Regions from separate parts of the Homo sapiens genome. Here all the other regions are linked to region 2. Evidence: fine-mapped expression QTL. A gene starts in region 2. Each other region holds a variant in brackets. All regions are shown on one strand. Distances are from middle to middle.

Region 1 (5,200 bases), 73 kb before region 2:
ATGTCCCAGAAAGAACGGAGCCCCATGCTGCTAAGAATTCAAGTAACAGAGGGATAGTAAAGTGCCAGTTGGGCCAGGCGCGGTGGCTCACGCCTGTAATCCCAGCACTTTGGGAGGCTGAGGTGGGTGGATCATGAGGTCAGGAGATCAAGACCATCCTGGCTAACATGGTGAAACCCCATCTCTACTAAAAATACAAAAAATTAGCTGGGCATGGGCCTGTAGTCCCAGCTACTTGGGAGGCTGAGGCAGGAGAATCGTGTGAACCTGGGAGGCGGAGCTTGCAGTGAGCTCAGATGGCGCCACTGCACTCCAGCTTGGGCGACAGAACGAGACTCTGTCTCAAAAAAAAAAAAAAAAAAAAAAAAAGAAAAGTGCCGGTTGGCTCTGGCAATATGGAGGGCGTGAGGGATGAGAAGACCAGTGCCAGGGCATCAGGGAGAGGGACCAGGCAGCCATGGGCAGTGAGGGCAGCAGGAGGAAAGCCCAGGGCAGGCAGGAGGCAGAGCACAGTCCAGGGAGACGATGACAGAGGCTCCTTCCAGAGAGCAAAACCTGCAGGTCTGTGGGGAGTTTCTCCGTGGAGAGAAAAGGGCCAGGAGAAAAAGAGATGCCAGAGGAAAAAGAGAGAGAAGTGAATTCACACTGATGGAATGGGTCTCTGGGGAGACCCAAGGAAATGGACTCCAAGGCACAGGATCAAGGGACTGGATGAGAGGGACCCTCCCCACCAAGACAGAAGGGGTACGGGAAGAAGGAGGCTAGGGAAGAGAGGTTTGCAGGAGGCAGAAGAAGCTGGAGCCTGATGTCCTGAGATCTGAAGGCTGGGCATCTGCTGGGAAGGTGAGCCAGGAAGGTGGGGCGGGGAGGATTTGAGAAGAAAGATGGAGAATGCAATAGCAGACAGGAAGCCTGGAGTCACGGCCAGATAAGGAGGGGACATCTAGAAGACTTGCTGGTCCCCCTGAGGGCCCACCAAAGGCTGAAGACCATGAACCTGTAGGAAGTCAAGTCCACAAAGTTGTATAATTTTCTCCCACCACCCTTGGGAGCCCAAAGCAAGGAGTGCAGACACCCAGAGGCTGGCGCTTCGGTGGGAGTTGGGCAGGCCAGGTGCTGCGGGAGGCTCAGGAGGGCTGAGGGTGAGGGAGGCCGAGTGACTGCAGAGTGAACCATGGAAAAGGAGACAATTCACAGAGAAATGGAGTGTGATCCAGAAAGAGAGGTTCTGATGGAGCCAGAGAGCGGGTGTCCTGAGGGGAAGAGAGGAGTGGGACCAGCAGGCACGAGGCTGTGGTCAGAGAAGGCCATGCTGGGATTTATGATTTTGGAGCTGGGGCATTTCCAGAGCTGATGAGGTACTGGTGTAGCCACAGGTGGGAGGCTGGAATGGAGGCTGAGGGCCTGTGAGAAGGGGGCGTGGGACGGGCATCTATGTCCACATGAGGTTGCCCAGGCCACCAGCAGGCCAAAGGATGGAGGGAAGTTCTTCCGAGCCCCCTCCATGAATTCAGGTCTTTAAGGCAGGGGTGGAGGGGCAGGGGGGCACACACAGAGGCAGGCTGGGCACTCTGTGGGCTTTCTGCCCCATTCTGCAGCATCCTCTCCATTTAGGGAAGCCATCCTAAGGTCTGAGGTGCTTTCAGAATCAGGCTGGATGCCTGAGGCCCGAGCACAGTAAAGGAGGGGTCCTCTGCTCTGGGAGCCCTGTGACTGTCTAAGGGGCTGCCTCTGGGGCTCAAGGTGATAGCCCAGACGGGCAGGGACACCCCTTCCGCAGCCACAAGTTCACCAACCAGGGCCGGCAAATGGCCCGGCAGCCTATGTTCACCTGGCACCACGGAGGTCTCACCATATCCACCTTCCTTCTAGGAGGAATGTTCGCCCAGCCCTGGACAGCTTCCTGCTTCAGGAACCAATCCCTGACATGGGGGCCCAGGTGCCATCGGTGGGGCTCCCAAAGCACTAATAATTCTCATGCACCCTCAGTGCGCCCAGGCCCTGCTCGCTCCTGGATGATTGTCTGGCTCACCAGCAAGCAGACACCCCCAGCTCAGGCCTCCAAGGAGGGGGTGGCTCTTCTCCAGCTCCTATGGTCTGGGCCCCAGGACACAGCTGGGTGCTTCCAAAACTGGGAGCCTGAGCAGGGCCAGATGAGCTGTCTCCAGGGAAGGGAAGGCAGATGAGTCTGGAAAGGGCAGCTGCTTGAGGGGCCTGGGCAGAGGGAGAGCGGTCTGGGGACCTGGACCTACCCGCCTTTCATCCACCACGATGTAGTTACGCCCGTGTTTCTTGGTCAGGTGCGGGGCCAGGACATCAAAGCGGCGGCGGAACTCGGAAAACACCATGTGGTCAGGGTAACCTAGAGAGAGCAGCCCAGAGCCAGGCCTGTCAACGCCACCTGCTCCCAGCACACCCCAGTAGCCACTGTGCCTGGGCAGTCAGTGGAGAGTCACCAAAAGGGAAGAAACTGCAGGGGGTGGGGAGCCTGTGGTTGAAGGCAGGCCTAGAAAGGAGAGGGGGTAGGCAGGGAAGAGGAAGAGAAGGTCAGGAGGACAATCAGGCCTGCTCCACAGGGGGATAGGAAGGCCCAAAAAAGGAACAGCCTCCTTCAGAGAGAAGTAAGCTCCTAGTAGTCAGTGAGGTATGCAAATGGGGGGTTGTGGGGTAGCTGACCAGCTGGGAGGAAGGCTACATCCCAATCCCCAAGATGCTTTCCAGCCCTCCAAGTCTATGCCTCAGTGATAACCCAGACAAAATAATGTCTTATGGTCT[TAA/T]AAAAAAAAAAAAAAAAAAAAAAGACACCAGGCCAGGCGTGGTGGCTCACGCCTGTAATCCTATCACTTTGGGAGGCCAAGGTGGGAGGATCACTTGAGGCCAGGAGTTTAGACAAGCCTGGCCAGCATGGTAAAACTGTCTCTACCAAAAGTACAAAAAAGTAAGCCGGGTATGGTGGTGCATGCCTGTAGTCCCAGCTACTCAGGAGGCCGAGGCAGAAGAATCGCTTGAACTCAGGAGGCAGAGGCTGCAGTGAGCCAAGATCACACCACTGCACTCCAGCCTGGGAGACAGAGCAAGACTGTGTCTCAAAAAAAAAAAAAAAAAAAGGCACCAGAGAGTAGCTGAGAGGAATCGCGCATTGGCTAGGTGCTGGATTCCTGGCCCTGCCTCTTAGGATCATGTGACCTTGGGCCAGTCACTCAACCTTTCTGAGCCTCAGTTTCTTCACCTTTAAACAGCGGCCCTCGCACTTATCTCGAATGGTAGTCATGGAGATTAAATGAGAAACCAGGTAAAAAGCACAGTGTGACTCACTTGGTTGGCATTTAATAAACACTCCTTTTCCCCCTCTGTCCACTAGAGCAGGACATGAGAAAGGCTGCCCTCCTTGCCTCACCCTGACCTTGAGTCCTAGGCCAGGTGACCAAAAAGACTTGTAGATTCTCTTTCCCTGAAGAGTGTCTGGGCTTCAGGTCAGGGGAGGTGTGACCTGACTTTTGGCTTGGAGCAAAGTGGGTCAGAGCAGTGGCTAGCAGGAAGTGACCCCAAGTCACCCTGATCTTACCAGAGCCCAGGGTGGAGGGCCACGAACTCCACTCCCACAAAATCACAGAATTTCAAACCAGAAAGGGATCTTAAGCCAGATCCAACTCATCTTTCAGACACAGAAACGGAGGCCTGGGAGGAGCGACTGTCTTGCTCAAGGTCACAAAGGCTGCTGCTGGGGGCAGAACTGGCTTCCAAACCTGGACTCCTGACAGCTAGCCAAGGGCATGCTCCACAGCAATGACGGGCTAGCTGGCTCTGGGAAACCCTCCAGCTGGGAGGTGAGGCTGATGCATGTGCCTGATAATTGAAACAGGAGGTGGGGGCTGCTGAGGGGCCAAGACAAAGTGAGCTATTGATTGTATCTGAATTGCAATTAAATTGATGGGCCAGGATAGCAGGTCTGGACGCCTGGCATCTTAATTAATCATCAGTGCTATAGTGCGGTGGCTGGGGGCCGGGTGAGGGAAGGGGGGCCTGCCGCTGCTGGCCTCATCGATCTGCTTGTTTGAGTAACGCACATTGATTTTGGTTCAGAGCGGTAACAATCTGGTTTTGAAATAATAAACACCAACTCCATATCAAGACGTGGGGACAGATCGATGATTTATTTAGAGCAGGGCAGGGAGCCTGTTTCCTGGCTTGGGCTGCTAAGGAAGTTTTAGTGCCCATGGGAATGCCTGAAGGGGACCTGGCTGTGGGTGGGTGGGACCCTACCTGCTCTTCTAGTGAAGGAGAAAAACAGCAGAAACCCAGCAACTCATAACTTCTCAGGCAAAAAACAAAAAAAAAACAAAAAAAACCCACCCTACTTGAGAGACATGAGACATGACTCTACAGCCAGCCTGCCTGGTCAAATCCCACTCTGCCACTCAGGAGCTGTGTGACCTTGGGCAAGCTACTTAACCTCTCTGAGCCTCAGTCTCCTCATCTGGAATGATACCAGTGTGCTATCCCGGCCCCCAGCCACCGATAACAGCTTCTAAGGACTCTAAGTAACCACTAATACTATCATCCTGTCTGTCGCCTCCTTTAGATGGGTCCATAAAAAAGGGTCTGTCTGACCTTTCTTGGGAATTTTAAGTACTTCAGAAAGATTTAGCACCTCATTTCTCACTGGGCAGATGGCTCCGAAAGGGCACTGGGTTTGCTGCTGTGGGCAAAGCTGAACTGTCCAAACTAGGGACGTGGGAAGAAAGGGAGCTGTGGACAAATGACAAGGTGCAGGGTGGAGCTAGGAAGGGAGGGGGACAAAGAGAACTGAATATGGAAGGGAGAGGAGGAGGCGGGGACTCTGCAGGATGGAAGGAAATGGACAAAGGGGCTGTGGGCTGGGAGAGATGAGGAGAGACCAGAGCAGAAAGGATCGTGAGGAAAGACAGGAGCAGCCCCACTGCAGCCCACGGGTCGCAGGTGGGAGGTGGGGCCGGGCAGGGCCAGCTCTGGAAAAGAGAGCCCAGAGTGGAGAGGAAAGGAGGCCCCACCTTGGCGGTACATGCGCATGGCATCGAGCAGGCGGGAGCCGCGGAGCTGGGTGCGGAGCAGGGGCACGTCGAGCTGCAGGAGCCCAGCCTCGCAGTGGTCTCCCGAGGGCAGGTCCAGCTCACTGCTGCTGCTGACTCGGCGGGAGGAGGCGGAACGGGGCTCCCCAGCC
Region 2 (5,200 bases):
AGGCCACCAACAAAACCCAGCTCACGTGGATGCTCTGGCTCCTGCCTGTGGCGTCCACCCCAGGTGAGAGGATCTGGCTGAGGAGAGACCTCTGGTTTGAAGGATTAAGAACAGCCCTGCTGCCCTGAAGACCTGTGACACAGCAAGTCCAGATGAAGGCTTCCTGAGTTCCAACAACTCCCAGCTCCACCTCAGCAGGGTGGATTCTCCCTTTCACATGAGCCCCAGTTCTGCCCCACCCAGTCCACCTTTAGGTACCTGCCTCTGGGGGACCCAGAGTTTTCAGGCCCAGTTTCTGAAGACACATGCAGTCCTCAATGAATAGCCACTACCAGGGCCAGTGAGGGGGCCTCCAGGGAACTGGCTGGCTACCCAGACAGCCCAGGAGTGAGGCTGAGAGACCAGGTGGGAGTCAGGAAGGGCATAACCCACATGAGGAAAGTCTGGGGCGCAGGAGGAAGCCCTCAGGCACACACTCTGGCACCTGGGCCAGGCCAGGAGAGAGTAAACAAACTAGACACTCAGAGCTACCAGGCACCAGGTCATCAACTGTTCAAAGTTCAAAGCTCCCAAAGGAAGTGACCGCCAGCCTGTGGCCCCTCCCATGCCCACCCTCCACCCCCACCTACAACCCTTCTCATTCCCCTAATCCCTCAACACAATAGCTGCCCCCAAAGCCATGGTTTTCCTGGAATTGAGGCCACAACCCCCATGTCCTCAACCCAAAATGGACAAGCACACCTCCACCCGAGGCTATATATAACCCGTCATGTCAAATCCAGAAACCAGGAGGATGTTTCCTGGAAAGACTTCATCACAAAAAAACAGAGAGGAAGCTGAGGAGGTGGGAAGCCATGGACAAAGAGCCAGTGAGGCTTGTCAGGAAGCCAGAGACCTCAGGAGAGCAACTTTCAATATCTCCAGATAGAAAGTAGCCCCTGAACTAAAAAGGGTGGGGAACATTAGGCCAGGCCTGTTGCCACAACAACAGGGCACCAACCTGCTCAAGAAAAGGGCTCCAAAGCACAAGGGAAAGGCGGCTGATTCAATGGGCTCTGTACTCACCGTCCTGCTCAGGTGATCTTGCTCTTAATCACCCAGGTGGCCTCCCCTCCCTTCCAGCACACCCCAGTGCATACACACTTCCCAGAGCTCACTTGCCACAGGGGCACTGATGAGGCCTTCTCGGCCACAGACACGCCAGGGGCTCCAAAAGACAAGACGAACCCACACTAACTAGCCCAAGTCATTGGCAGGGTGAAGCAGGGAGGGAATCCAATTCTTTAATTCGGGGTGGCCATCTGAGGGAATGAAAGCCCTAGCCAGGACAGTCCCTCTCAGGAAGCATTCCCCCAGCCCTCCCCACACAAATACAAACTATGAGGCCAGCGCCAAACACATGCCCCATTGGCAAAGTGGTCAGGCAAAATGAATACCCGCTCAAAAACAAACTGGCTGTCTTCCTCCCCATCTCCCCCACCCCCCACCTCTAGCTCATTCTGGCCGCAACCTTTCCAACTAATCAGCAAGACACATGTGCCTTGCAGTAGGGCAACTCCCCCATCTCCACCCCCAAAACAAAGCCCCAATGCCTGGCCTGTCCCTGCGGGCCTTATCGCACCCAGGAACATGACCCACACTCCTGGCCGGGTTTGGGACCAAGGAGCGCACCCCCACTAACAAGGGGCAGGGTGAGGGGGCAGCCACCCCTACCACCTCCCCTTCCCATTGGCGAAACAACTGGCATGACAGGTTAGCAGGGCGGGGCGTCGGGGCGGTCTCTCCAGAGGCCTGGGGCAGCTTGTCCGACCTTCCCACACGCACCCCACCCCTCTGCAGGGAAAGGTGAGGTGAGCATTCAGTCTCAGGGCACAGCCTGCACTCCCTAATCCCCAAAGCCTGCCACCATTCACCCTCTCATCTTCTGTCCCAAGAGGAGGGGGCCCAGGGAAGCGGGGTCTCCATTGTTTTGCCAGCTGTCTAGCAGCTGCTCCTTTGAGAGGAGCCCGCAGTCTGCCCGGCAGTGAAAGAGTGAAGGCCGCTGGGAGGGATAAAAGGGTCGGTAGAGGTGCTCCCCTTCCCCGCTGCCTTCCTCAGCGCCCCGCTCTCTCGCTCGCTCCATCGTGGGGCCTGGACGGGGGCAGGAGAAGTCCCCCCACCCTCGAGGCTGCAGCCCCCACCCCGCAGCTCCGGGCCACCTGGGCGCCTCCAAGCCCCAAATCCCCCCACACTGAAGGCCACCCTGTCCTGCCTCCCTGCGCCCCCCAGGTTGGCTGGAAGGGCCGGTGGTTCCCCCTTCCCCGCCGCTCCCGATCGGCCCCCACCCCCGGGCGTCGAGCTCCACGGCGCCGCCAGGGACGGGAGCCGGGAGTCCGGGCCGCTGCTTCCAGGGGACGGGGGAGGAGGAGGAGGAGCCGGCGGGCCCCGCCGCCCGCCCGCCCTCCCTCCCGGCCGGAGCCCGCCCCGCCGCCCCACCAAGCCGGGCCCGCCACCGAGCGGCCGCCGCCGCCGACCGGCACTCACCGGCCACCGGAGCCCGCCCGGCAGGCAGCAGAAGCGGAGACGCGGCATCCAGCAGCCTCGGCCCGGTCAGGGATGGAGCAGAGCGCAGCGCGGCGCAGCTCAGCGCCGCCCCCAGCGACCGCGCAGGCCGAGCCGAAAGGGAGCTCCCTGCTGGCGGCTGTGGGGATAAACGCCCGGCCTGCCTGGCAGCGCCAGTGCGCGCCGCCAGACGTGGGCCAGGCGGGCCGGGCGCTGCCCTGGCAGCCTCCGTCCGCTGTGGACTCCGAAGCCCCTCTCGCTGTGTCTGAGAGAGGCCCTGCCTGGAGTTTCTGTCTGCACTGGGCACTGGAGGCTGTCCGAAAAGGGTCCGAAAGGGGCTGAGTGGCACTGCCTAGGACAGGCACCAGGGTCATGATGAACGTATAGAAGAGGGGCTGTCCAAGGCAGGCACCGAACTCTGCAGGCTGTGTTCAAGGTAGTGCTGTCTAAAGGAAGCAATTAAGTCTTACTGGCCGCCTCCTCCCAAGGTGGCTCTGCAGAGGCACACACAGGGCCCTGCTGGATGGTGCCCCAGGCTCAGTCCAGACCAGGTACTGCCTGCCATGTCCGAGATGGCACTGCCAGAATGCACTCCCCAAGGTAAAAACAGACTCCCAATAGCTTGGTCTGATACAGCCCTGCCTCAAAATGGAGTGGATCAAGAGGCGTACCAGGGCCCGGGAGCCATGGCTGTAAGTGCCACTCACTCCCTAAAGGAGTTCACCAATGCCAAGATTAACACTTTCAGAAGCTCTTTGGAATGCAGTCTGTCCCTGGGTCCACTGTGTGCTGTAAATATCAAGTGAGCTGCTGTACCCACCAAGAAGACAGTTTATACTTCCTGGGAGAGGCCAAGGGACATCCAGATACCAGGCCTCCAAGATAGGTGCTATGTCTAGAGTTTGGAGAAAGAAAGAAATGGGGACACTTCCCTGGGCAGTGTCCATGCTGGAGTGGGGTGTGCCAGAATGTGGAAGAAACTGAGTGGGGTGGTGCAGGAAGAAGGGTGTAGCAGACAAATGCTGCTACCTCCCTAGACAGCCCAAACAGGAACTTCTCCAGGCAAGGGCAGCCCAACCTGACAGACCAGGGAAGGCTGGAGCAAGGAGGCTCAGAAAGCAGAGAGTTGAGTAAGAGTTAGGGAGTTCCTGAGGAATAGACCCAGGCGGGATACACATTTTGGAATAACATGCAACTCAAATTCAATTTAACAAACTGCCTGCTAAGTGCCAAGTGCAGCCCCAGGCACTTGGGGTGACACAGAAGGAGATCAGACATGGCATATCTCCAGGGAAATCACATGGGGAACAGGTAGACCTGAGCTGTGACAGTAGTAGGGTTCACCATGCTGGCATTACTTGGATGATGAGATAGGTGCTATGATGGGAGGCTTATTTGGCTTGAGGAGTGAGAAGAGCAGCTTCAAAAACATGACATTTGAGGCCAGGCATGGTGGCTTATGCCTGTAATCCCAGCACTTTGGGAGGCTGAGGTGGGCAGATCACTTGAGGCCAGCGTTCAAGACCAGCCTGGCCAACATGGCGAAACCCCATCACTACTACAAATACAAAAAATTAACCAGGCGTGGTAGTGCATGTCTATAATCCCAGCTACTTGGGAGGCTGAGGCAGGAGAATCTCTTGAACCTGGGGAGCAGAGGTTGCAGTGAGCGGAGATTACACCACTGTACTTCAGCCTGGGCGACAGAGCAAGACTCTGTCTCCAAAAAAGAAAAAAAAAAAACCCCAAAAACATGACATTTGAGCGGAACCTTGCAGGCTAAGTAGGACAACGACTATCATTAGTGTTTCCTGAGTACCTATTATATACTAGACACTATCTCTACTCCTCACAATGAACCTATGAGGGAGACATTATTATTATAGATAGGGGTTGAGTGCATGGACTCTGGAGCTGGATTGCCTGGATTCAAAATCTCAGTTCTGTAAAGTACTAGCTGTGTTACTCTGGGTGATTTTTTATAAATCACCTCTCTGTGCTTCACTTTGCTCATCCAAAAAATTGGGATAATAACAGTGACTCCCTCCCTCAAAATTTGTTTTGAAAATTATATAAGCTTAGTCTTTTCAACACATGGGGCTTTTCAACAAACTGGACATCCACATGCAAAAAAAAAAAAAGGGGGGGGTCTAGACACAGACTTTATACCCTTCACAAAAATTAACTCAGAATAGATTATATACCTAAATGTAAAACACAAAACTATAAAACTGTCTCCTAGAGGATAACATAGGAGAAAACCTAGATGACCTTGAGTATCACAATGACTCTTTAGATACAACACCAAAGGCACCATAAAAGAAAGAGCTGATAAGCTGGGCTTCATTAAAATTAAAAATGTCTGCTCTGCAAAAGACTGTCAAGAGAATGAGAAGACAAGCCACAACTGGGATAAAATATATGCAAAAGACATCTGATAAAGGATTGTTATCCAAAATACGCAGAGTTTTAAAAACTCAACAATAAGAAAATGAACCACCCAATTTAGAAATGGGCAAAAAACCTGATCAGACACCTTACCAAAGAAGATATACAGATAGCAGTAAGCAAAAGAAAAGATATTCAACACTGTATATCATTAGAGAATAGCAAATTAAAGCCAGGTGCGGTGGCTCACGCCTGTAATCCCAGCACTTTG
Region 3 (5,200 bases), 47 kb before region 2:
GGCTGGAGGCAGTGAGTAGCTGGAGCCTGCCTCCAGGTCACCTGCACCAAGCAGCTGACAGGGTCTTGGAAGAGACAGCAGCGACTACAGTGAAGTCCCTCCATGCCTTTGCCTTGTGCCACCCAGAGCAGGCTGAAGAATCCCAACAGCTGAGCTCTCATTCGACGCTCCCTGACCTAAGAGTTTGCCCACCCAAGCCTCTCCAGGCCCAAAGGGTTCAGGAAACCAGAACCAAAGGGAGGCAACTTAAGGGGATTGGGGAGGAGGTTAGGGGAGGTCCCCAAAGCACCTTGGCCATCTCCTTCACACACCTGAAGCTGGCATCACATACACCGTACTTTCTTCCCCTTTACTAGAATTCTCTTCAGCTGAGCCACACAGGAAGGGGCCCCCTGCAATCCCCACCTACTCCATGGAGCTGTCTCACAGGCTAGTCCAGGGCTAGTGGGTGCAGGGGCAAACACACACACGCACACACACATGCACGCATGCACACACACATGCCCGCACACACACACGCATGCCTCGGAGAACTCAAGGATGCACTTACAGCCCCTTCCTCCTTGCCAGGAGAGCCAGGCTTTGGCAGAGTTTTGTCCTCCTCTTTAACCTGAGGGAGCAGATGAAGAAGTCACTGGCAGGTCAAGGCTGGGAGACCCAGCACTAAAAGCACAGGGAGAGAACATTCAAGGGGCCTCCCTCACCCTGAGGTGGAGCTCCTGAGTCTTTAGGAATACCGGGGCTAGGGGACCTGGGCAAGAGCTATCCTATCCTAGAATCAGAACTGTTCAGTGATGACTTCAAGAATGAAGAGTCTGTGGGGGAAAAAGCCAAGTACCCTTGCCCTCAGCAACCAGCCACTTTGCCCACTTTGGGGGCTGTCTAAAGAGGTCCACCCACAGTGCCATCGTGGCTTTGGTTACGTGGCAGATGGGAAGATCCAGCTAATTTAACTCATCCAAACTACAAGAGTCATCCCTAGCTCAGGCAAGAAGTGGTTTGAACAAAAAGCCCCAGATCTAGTGACTGAGGAGGTAAAAGTAACCCAGTGTGGGTACCTGTGGGCCAGCAGCTTTTAGAGTAGAGTGAAGGTTGGCCCCTACTGGGCTGGCTCTGGCTTACTTCTTGATCCTGCACAACTCCCCCAGCTCAGCTGAGATCTTGCTGGAGGCAGGGAGTGGGGCAGAGGCGGAGATTCAGGAGGCCAGATATTTTCTCAACCTCAGACCCACAAAACTGCCAACCACGCAGCCGAGGGAGGGAACCCTGAAGTTAGGGGCGGGGTATGGAGGAAGGAAAGATGCCTAAGCTCTGGACACTGGGGCCAGGGGTTTGTGCTGGAGCCCAGGAGCTGGCTGGCCTGAGTCAGAGGGGAGGAGTGGAGTCGTGGAAACAGCAGATACCATCACACATCTGGAAAAAGGGCAGATGATGTGGAAGCTCTGAAGGTTCTTTCAGTTCAGAAACTGGCTCACAACAGATTCAGAGAGGCCAGGCCTCAAGTTTTAAAAAGTCTTCTCCTTTCCCCTCACCAGTATCTCTCCCTCCAAAAGCTCAGGCAGTCCTATGGATTTAATTTCTCCTCTTTCCCGCGTCACCTAGGACTACAGGAAAAAGACAGCCCTGTTACCAACCCTACCTCCTCCTCAGCGTGCCTCTCCTTCCCAGCACAATGTGGGTAGGAGCATGGCAAGAAGTCCTTGATTCCTAAGGGAAAAAATCTTTAGAAACATCCAGAATCATTTACATGATCCACTTGGGGGGACTCTCCAATTTTAACCAGGGTCTGTGGCTAATTTTGAGCTCAAATTAGCAGTGCCAGGGGCACTGGCTGGCGTGATGGCTGCTGCAGTTTTAAAGCTGCATCTTGTCCACAGAGCTATCTGCAACGGGCTCAATCTTCATAGTTAGCTCACAATGCCAAGGACGAGGGGAAATGGCAAATATTCACCAGAGTGGAGCCTACTTCTTTAAGAATTGGAATCGGAGCAGAGAAAGGGAAGGGAGGGACTGGTGGACAGAGGGAGGAAGAGTGGCAGGGTCTAGGTCTGTGCCTGCTGCCCCCCACCAAGCCATCACTCTCCCCCTTGCTGCCCCAGGGATCACACCATGCAGTAGTTCTGGGGCACACAGGTTAGTGGGAGGACAAGTGTTCGCAAACCACACAGACACACTCATTACTGCACGCAGTGCTGTTAACTTGGGTGCCGGGGTGGCCCAGATTCCAAGTCCACTCTGTGTTCTTCACCAGCTCCAAATCTGTCCTCCCTCCAGTGGCTCAAGTTTGGGACCCCAAATGTCTGGCCCAAGGTGTGGCATTGGGGAAAACACTGGGTGCCCCCCAAGTGTCTGAAACACTGGGCCCAGCTCTGAGCTCAGCTCTGGATTTAGCATCAGGCTGACTCACTCCTCCCTCCCCCATCAGAAGGGCTCTGGCTGTTGTAGGTCACTGCCCAGCTGGGGACTATGCACACGCATAAAGGCACACACACAGGCAGTCCCAAGTCTGTGGCCTGAATCACCCTCTGGACCCAGGTGGCCAACTGGCCTGACTCCCCACCCTTGGCCCCTTGTCCTCCTAACCCACTGCAGCCCCCAGGATCAGGGAGACCCAGTTCCAGCGGTCCCTCCACAGCAGCCCACGTTCCAGGGGTGAGTCAAGGCAGCAGGGTGGTGGGAAGGGTGTGGAGGGGTTAACCCAGAGGGACACCAGCAGGACAAAAGGCAGCTCACCTTACCAGAGGTGGGGCTTAGGGGAGAAGCATGACTCAGTGCAGGAGCCCATCCAGCCAGAATAGGGAGTTCACCAGCCCCCGTCATTCTCCCTGCCACCCCCAATTATACACACATGCCCCAATCCATCTCTAGCTTCCAAAGCTCCCTCTCCCACAAGCCAGTCTCCTGCCTGCAGATACAACATGCCAAGCACACAGGAAAAACATAAAGATTTTAAAATCCAACTTTCCTTTTGCTCCCAGAAGGCGAACCTTGATGAAAAGGCCATGGCGCT[G/C]AAGGTAACCTGTGCCCTGGGTCAGAGAAGAAATGGGGGGCAGGGTCTCTCAGTGTCTCTGAGTCTTCCCAAAGGCCAGAACCTGCCAGGATAAACACTGTGGGCAACAAGGGGAAAGGAGGGATGGAGTGGAGGAGGAAGGATTACAAAACTCAAGAGGGCATTGGAGTAAGGAATAAAATATTAAAGGAAAATGAAGGAAAGTAGGCACAGAACATAGCACTCCCTACCCTTGGAAGCTGTGTGCATTGTTTTTATTTTTTTATTTTTATTTTTTGAGATGCAGTCTCACTCTGTAGGCCAGGCTGAAGTGCAATGGTGCCATCTCGGCTCACTGCAGCCTCTGCCTCCCGGGTTCAAGTGATTCTCCTGCCTCAGCCTCCCCGGCACCAACACGCCCAGCTAATTTTTGTACTTTTTAGTAGAGATGGGGGTTCACCATGTTGGCCAGACTAGTCTCGAACTCTTGACCTCAGGTGATCCACCCGCCTTGGCGTCCTAAAGTGCTGGGATTACAGGTGTGAGCTGACGTGCCCGGCCAGAAGCTGTGTGCTTTGAATAAGCCACTTCGCCTCTTTGGGCCTCTCTGTAGAATTAGGGGCTAGTCTAGACAATGGCTCAAGGCCTCTCCATGTCTGGCACCTTAGGAGTCTACGTGGGGAGAGGCACTCAAACTCTATTTATTTATTTATTTATTGAGTCGGAGTTTCACTCTTGTTGCCCAGGCTGGAGTACAATGGCGTGATCTCGGCTCACTGCAACCTCCACCTCCCGGACTCAAGCGATTCTCCTGCCTCAGCCTCCCAGGTAGCTGGGATTACAGGCGCCCGCTACCACGCCCGGCTAATTTCTGTATTTTTAGTAGAGACGGGGTTTCTCCATGTTAGTCAGGCTGGTCTCGAACTCCTGACCTCAGGTGACCCACCTGCCTCAGCTTCCCAAAGCGCTGGGATTACAGGTGTGAGCCACCACGCCCAGCCAACACTCAAACCCTTAATACAGTAAACCAAAGTTGCAGGCCTGTGACCTAGGAGAGGAATTGAGGAATCTGCCTCAGGACCCCAGCGACTTTGCCTTCCAGCTGTAACACACAATTACGTGGGGCAAGAGGCCCGGAGAACTGCAAAACTGTCCATCTATGGATTAGAAACCAGAGCTGGGCCGCTTGAAAAATCAAGTCAGAATCTGCCTCAGTCCAGGGAGAGGCTGCATCCAAAGAATCAGGGCACTTCAGTGGAGTTTAATAACTGGTTCTTTTTTTTTTTTTAATTGAGACAGAGTCTCATCTCACTCTATCACCCAGGCTGGAGTACAGTGGTGCAATCTTGCCTCACTGCAACCTCCGCCTCCCGGGTTCACGCCATTCTCCTGCCTCAGCCTCCCGAGTAGCTGGGACTACAGGTGTCCACCACCATGCCCAGCTAATTTTTTGTATTTTTTTAGTAGAGGCAGGGTTTCACCGTGTGAGCCAGGATGGTCTTCATCTCCTGACCTCGTGATCCACCCGCCTTGGCCTCCCAAAGTGCTGGGATTACAGAGGTGAGCCACCGCGCCCGGCCAAGAACTGGTTCATTCTTAAAACTGCTTATCATGAATAATAGTTAAAAATTAGGAAATGTTTTGTTTTCAATTAATTATTTCTATTTTGCTTTGTTGACTTCTGTTTTATTATTCAGTTAATGTGCTAGAGACTTTAAGTTTGTCTGTTGGTGTAATTTTAACTCGTTTGATCTTTGATCTCTTGTTCAAGTTTTCCTACTTGTCTATAGAGGTCCCATCTGGCCCAGGCTGTGAGGACACCGGGCCATTTCCACCCAGGCCTGTTCCTCTGCATCAGCTGTTCCTATGAGCTTCACTCTGAACACAGATGTGGGGCTCTCCCCAGAGGAAATTCTCTCTGTGGCTTTTATGCAGAATTGCCTAGACAGTTTTCCTCTCTCCCTTATCACTGAATTTGTTTAGGATCAAGAGCAAGTTATCCTGGAACTGGATTGTTTATAACCCAAAGGATAAATGCTTGAGGGGGTAGAGACCCCATTGTCCATTGCCCAAGCACATGCTTGTTTCTCAATGCATGCCCATATCAAAACAAAACATCTCATGGACCGGGCGTGGTGGCTCACGCCTGTAATCCCAGAACTTTGGGAGGCTGAGGTGGGTGGATTACTTGAGCTCAGGAGTTTGAGACCA
Region 4 (5,200 bases), 89 kb before region 2:
CTCCAGCTCTCCTGAGAACTGTGACCCCGCCTTGGAAGGGTCAGTTGTGCTCTCTTCCTGTGTCCAGGTTATTAATGCCATCTAGATGCCCACCTGTTTCTATCCCTACCTAAATGCCTGCTCCATGGACTGTGAGCTGATGGAGGAGGTGACAGGGCTGCCCCTCACCAACCACACTCATCAACACAGGGCCCAGGGAGAACCGACGGTGTGGAGACAAAGGCTTATAAACTCAAGGAGAACTTAAAAATAAGGTGAGAGGGATGTAAACCCAGGAGATAATCCTTTCTGCCTCTCTCTTGCTATCTGCTCTGCCAGAGATGGAAGGGGCTGGCCAATACTGGCTTTGGGAGACCGAAAGAAAAAGGATTGGTCCAGCATGGTGGCTCATGCCTGTAATCCCAACACTTTGGGAAGCTGAGGCAGGCGGATTGCTTGAGCCCAGAAGTTCAAGACCAGTCTGAGCAACAAGGCAAAACCCTGTCTCTGCAAAAAATACAAAAATTAGCCAGGCATGGTGGCACATGCCTGTGGTCCCAGCTACACAGGAGGCTGAGGCAGGAGGATGGGAGGATTGCTTGAGCCCAGGAGGTCAAGGCTACAGTGAGCCATGATTGCGTCACTGCACTACAGCCTGGGCAACAGAGCGAGACCCTATCTCAAAAAAAAAAAAAAAGGGGAAGAAGAGAGAATGAACCTTATAATAAAGGGAGAGGAGAATGGGATGGGAAGAGGGTAAGAAAGAGAAATAAGATTGGAGAGAGGAAAAAATATAAAATATTTCATGCCTGTAATCCCAGCACTTTGGGAGGCCGAGGCGGGCAGATCATGAGGTCAGGAGATCAAGACCATCCTGGCCAACATGGTGAAACCCCCTCTCTACTAAAATACAATTTAAAAAAAGCACGTGCCTGTAGTCCCATCTACTCGGGAGGCTGAGGCAGGGGAATCGCTTGAACCCGGGAGGTGGAGGTTGCAGTGAGCCGAGATCGTACCACTGCACTCAAGCCTGGCGACAGAGTGAGACTCTGTCTCAAAAAAAAAAAAAAAAAAAAAAAAAAATGAAGGGAGAAGAAAGAATAGGATCATAATCAAGAAAAAGGGAGAGAGAAAAAAAAAAGCAGAGACAGGAGGGCAGAAGAAGTGAGGAAGAAAGGGAATGAAGCAGGGAAGGGGAGAGGAGCAGAGCGAGGGCAGATGAGAGAACAGATTCCAGCCTGCGCAGAAGTGGCACCATCCGCTGCATATTTATGACCCTGCCAGAGAACCGGTTGAGGGGAACAGGCGGGGGGAGCTCGTGGTGGAGGAAAATATGAAGACGAAGAGCTAAGCTGCTCTGGTCCCTTGGCAGAAAGCAAGCACGGAAACAGAATGTAAAGCAGGCGGGCTCCACGGTAGCCAGAGAGCAGGCCAGGCAGGGCGGGAGAGAAGCACCTGCCCGTCAGCTGGCCTGGCAGTGAGGCACAGGCCTCTGAGGACTGTCCGGGGGCCTGTCCAGCCCTGCTGAGCATGCGCGGCTCCAGCGCTGGGGCAGCTCTGCCCTGTTTGGTGTGGCCCGGGAGAAGTGTGAACCCACCTCCAGCCGTTTCACTTGCGTCCTTTCAAACTCCAGGCGTGTCTCCAGCTCCCGTATCTTAGCTTCCTGCCTGCTCACCAGGGACTTGTCCACCATGGACTGCTCCAGGAACTCCACCTGGCTCTGGAGGGCTTGTAGCTAGAGGTGGGGGACAGGAAGAGAAGAAAGAACTGAGCCCAGAAAGGGAGGAGACTGCGTCTGGGGCAGGCAATATCACCACAGTGACCAGAAGGCAAGGGGAGGGAGGGATGCACCTGGGAGGAAAGAGAATGGAGCCCTGGGCCAGAGGCCTCCCCCATCTGCCCCAGTGCTTGGCACAGAGATTGCCCTTCAGAGAGAAAGGAGAAAGCTAAGGATCGGAGAGGGAATACAGATGGGAAATGAGGCAGGGGAAGCCCAAATGTCTGTTATGGTGACATGGCTCCAAGCCTAGCTCTTGCTCCTCATTTACGCTGCTCTGTGGATTACTGATGGCAGAGAAAAGCGCCTTCTAAACTGTGAACTTGGGGGTTCCTCCCACACCTAGTGACCCTGGCACTCTCTCTCTCCTGAGGGAGCCCCTGGTCCTCACCTTCTCCTGCAGCTCCTGCTTCTCTTTGTTGGCTTCTTCTAGCTGAGCTTGGAGATCATTTATCTGAGCCAGGTCCCGGGAAGCCTGGGAAAGGAATGAGAGCATCAGAAGCAGGATCCCCCATAAGCATTCAACCAGCCCAGCCCAGCTGGAACACCAGGGGACCGAGGTTCCCACTCCATCACCTCCCAAAACAAGCGGTTGTGCGGGGGACCCATGAGGAGGACCACAAGGATGGTGACGGTGCAGAGTGTGACGGGCACTCCTGGCAGGGGTACCTGAGCCACGGCAGCCTTGTGCTTCTTCATCAATTCGTTCATGTCTTCCTGATCTTCCTCCAGCCGGTTCTGGATCTCATTCTTCTCACGCTGAAGGCGGCTCAGCTGCTCCTCCAGCTGGAGAGAGGCAAAGACAGATCAGAGGGCCTCAGGCCCAGTGTGCCTGTGGGCTCCAGCTGCCTCCAATGGCAGGGGCATTGTAGAGAAGATGATAATGGGCTGAGCCTGCCTGCTGGGGTGGGTCCCAGGACTAGTGATGCTCAAGGAGCTGCCTGTCCCGCTCTGGACCAGGGAGATGAGGGAAAGGGCTGTGTGCAGTACAGGCAGACCCTG[G/C]GCCTCTGAGCTGAATGACAGCTGCTTCCTGGCAGCTCCTTTGAGGCTAATGAGAAGGCAGAAAAGGTCTGCCCAGAACAAATGACCCATCATCCTGGCACTATCAGTCCAGGCCCTGGCCTGCGTGCACTCTGCCCCCTTCAGGCCCCAGGGAAGGACCCCTCAAGTCTGCGAAGGTCTCCTGGCTTAGACTCTCATTTTCCCTGGGACTGCCCACTCCCTGGGCATCCAGCCCCGACAGCCAGTCCCCTCCTTGGGGGAGGGGAAGAGAGATCCAACAGCAGCTTCAGGAAATGAATGAATCTATTAGCCTGTAATTCCAAACCAAAATGACTGTGTTGGCTCCTTCTCTGCCCCATCCATCTTGTTACTGGGCTGTGGGGAGCTGGGGAAGCCTCCGCCAAGAAATTTATTAACTCAGATTTAAATAAAATGGTAATTTTATAACAACCTTTTTTAACACAATTAAGGAATTTGAATTACTCACCTGAGAACTGCTGAGGAGCACAAATGTCATGGGGATAAATCAAGCCCGTGAGATTGGCATCTCTCAGCAGCTAGGTGACTAGCTCAGGGGCCATGAAGCCACCAGCCCAGCCCAGCCTCCTCCCCTGCCCCATTCCCTGCCCAAGGGGCCTGCCCACTGGGGTGGGTCCCAGGACCAGTGATGCTCAAGGAGCTGCCTGTACTGGCCGCATCCCAGTAATGAATTCTCTGCCGATGGATGGGCCGTGGGAGAGGTGGGAAATTAAAAGGGAGGCATTAAATAAGAGCTCTAATTAGCTGCCGCTTGGGCTTGTCAGTGGGCTGGGCAGGGGGAAGGGGAAGGAAGCCAAGCCATCCTGTCCTCTTATCTGTGCTTCTGCTAATCTCTAGGCACCTGTTTACATCCCTCAGCCACATTAGCTGCCTTTATTTATGGTGTTGGGGCCTGCGGCCAAGCTCCCGTAGGCAGGTGGTTAAACAGGGAGATGGGCCCTTGCTGGCTCCCTCTTCTGCCCGCTCCTCCCCGAGGCCTCTGCTCAGTGTGGAGAGACGCAGAGGAGGGGAGGCCCGCTCTTCCTGCAGCAAGTCCTGGCGTGAAAGGACCTGTCACAAGTCCTGACGTGGAGGGACCTGTCTAGGGTGAAGGGAGCCACAGAGGCAGCTCTATTCTGCCTCAGCCCCCCGAGCTCTGCCCCGGGCACCTTGGCCCCTCACCGCTGTCTTGGCTTTGGCGATGTCATCAATCTGCAGGTGCAGGTCTTCGATCTCCACCTCCATTGCTTTCCGTGCTTTCACGGCTGCCGCACAGGTGAACTCTGACTCCTCCAGCTGGACACAGACCACCCCCGCCCCAGGGAGAGATGTCAGCCATTCCTTGGGGGCAGGAGGGCTGTACAGGAAAGAGGGAGCTCGGATGCCCTCCTTCTCCTCCTCCATTCACTTCAGACCCCAGGGCCATGGCTGTGTGGTGGTGCACGCGTGGGGATCTCCTCCCGTGACATGGCTGGTGGGCACCAGGCCCCATCCACACCATCCCAGGCTGGGCGGTGAGACAGTAAGGCACACGCAGAGCCTGGGGAGTCTAGCTGCTACACGTGGCTCTCCCCTCTTTCCTGTCACTTTCCTTCCCAAGGACTCAAGAACCACTGAGAGGAGCGAGAGAGAGAAAGAGAATGGAAAGGTAAGCTCTGTTGTGCCTGGATCAGCCGTGTGCTCTCTGTGGATACCTGGTTCTTGAGCTGGGCAATCTCTCGCTTGCTGGGAGCACTGTTCTTCAGGTGGTCCAGCATGAGCTGGGCATCTGCCAGCAGGGCCTTGGTGCGCTTCAGGTCCTTCCGCAGCCGCTTCTCTGACTCAAAGTCCCGCCGGTTCACCTGGGTGGGCACCAGCAGTTGGGGTTCTGGGCTCTGCACAGGGCTTCCTCCTATCTTCCCCAAGCTCCCTCCTCACCACGTCCTCATTATCAGTGTCCCCATAAGGATGCTGGAAGAGCCAGGGTCATGCCAACCAGCGATAAAGGGCTGGGTGTGCCAATGTATGGTGATGCCCCCATCCCACAAGGGATGACGATGGGCTCTTTGCAGCACCCCCACCCCCGACAGCTCTGTTCGTGGCTCCCCATCCCTAGGATCCCCACTCCTCAGGCCGCATGGGCAGGGAGCCGGCCAGGCTTGGTGGGTGGAGCATCCCCTGACCTGGTCGCTGAGGGTGGCGAGCTTGCCCTCCAGCTCCCGCTTCTCTCGCAGAACCTTCTGCTTGTCCTCATACTCTTCCTCTAGCTGCACCTCCATCTGTTTTAACTGGAGTACCATGGGGACAGAGACCCGTCCGTCCCTTTAGTGCCTGGTGCGAAGCAGGCCCCTTCCATTCTGGGTTCCCCACTCCAGGAAAACAGTGGGGCAGGCCTGAGCACAATGATGTTGGTGGAGGGGTCAGAACCTAAATTCCAGGTTTCTA

Alleles and levels. Positions count from the first base shown, and alleles are read on the strand shown. Sizes are in standard deviations (SD) of each study's normalised expression. Not every link is listed here.
In carriers of allele T in region 1, the expression in Th17 cells of the gene that starts at base 2,609 in region 2 tends to be higher than with TAA alone (large effect, 1.4 SD a copy in Schmiedel 2018).

Evidence for each region. PIP is the estimated chance that this variant, and not a neighbour inherited with it, causes the effect. A credible set is the group of variants that fine-mapping cannot tell apart.
Region 1: its variant is the best candidate, but not a certain one, in a credible set for the expression of MYO18A in Th17 cells (Schmiedel 2018, PIP 0.61).
Region 3: its variant is the best candidate, but not a certain one, in a credible set for the expression of MYO18A in whole blood (TOPMed, PIP 0.87).
Region 4: its variant is the best candidate, but not a certain one, in a credible set for the expression of MYO18A in whole blood (TOPMed, PIP 0.70).

Annotation. Positions count from the first base shown.
Region 1 is chr17:29,104,828-29,110,027 of GRCh38, forward strand. MYO18A (myosin XVIIIA) reads right to left here. Exons shown (of 42, transcript NM_078471.4): 19 at 5,031-5,200; 20 at 2,253-2,362. Among named protein-coding and RNA genes, the nearest start is that of PIPOX, 64 kb to the left of the region's middle. RefSeq lists an enhancer at 3,752-4,334. The variant TAA/T (reference allele first, on the strand shown) is at 2,776.
Region 2 is chr17:29,177,790-29,182,989 of GRCh38, forward strand. MYO18A (myosin XVIIIA) reads right to left here and starts at 2,609. Exons shown (of 42, transcript NM_078471.4): 1 at 2,524-2,609. RefSeq lists silencers at 2,283-2,332, 2,453-2,502, 2,468-2,688.
Region 3 is chr17:29,130,833-29,136,032 of GRCh38, forward strand. All of the region lies in intron 2 of MYO18A (myosin XVIIIA), which reads right to left. Among named protein-coding and RNA genes, the nearest start is that of MYO18A, 47 kb to the right of the region's middle. RefSeq lists an enhancer at 2,259-2,553. The variant G/C (reference allele first, on the strand shown) is at 3,011.
Region 4 is chr17:29,088,385-29,093,584 of GRCh38, forward strand. MYO18A (myosin XVIIIA) reads right to left here. Exons shown (of 42, transcript NM_078471.4): 32 at 4,939-5,043; 33 at 4,471-4,617; 34 at 3,959-4,072; 35 at 2,426-2,542; 36 at 2,148-2,231; 37 at 1,577-1,714. Among named protein-coding and RNA genes, the nearest start is that of PIPOX, 48 kb to the left of the region's middle. The variant G/C (reference allele first, on the strand shown) is at 2,759.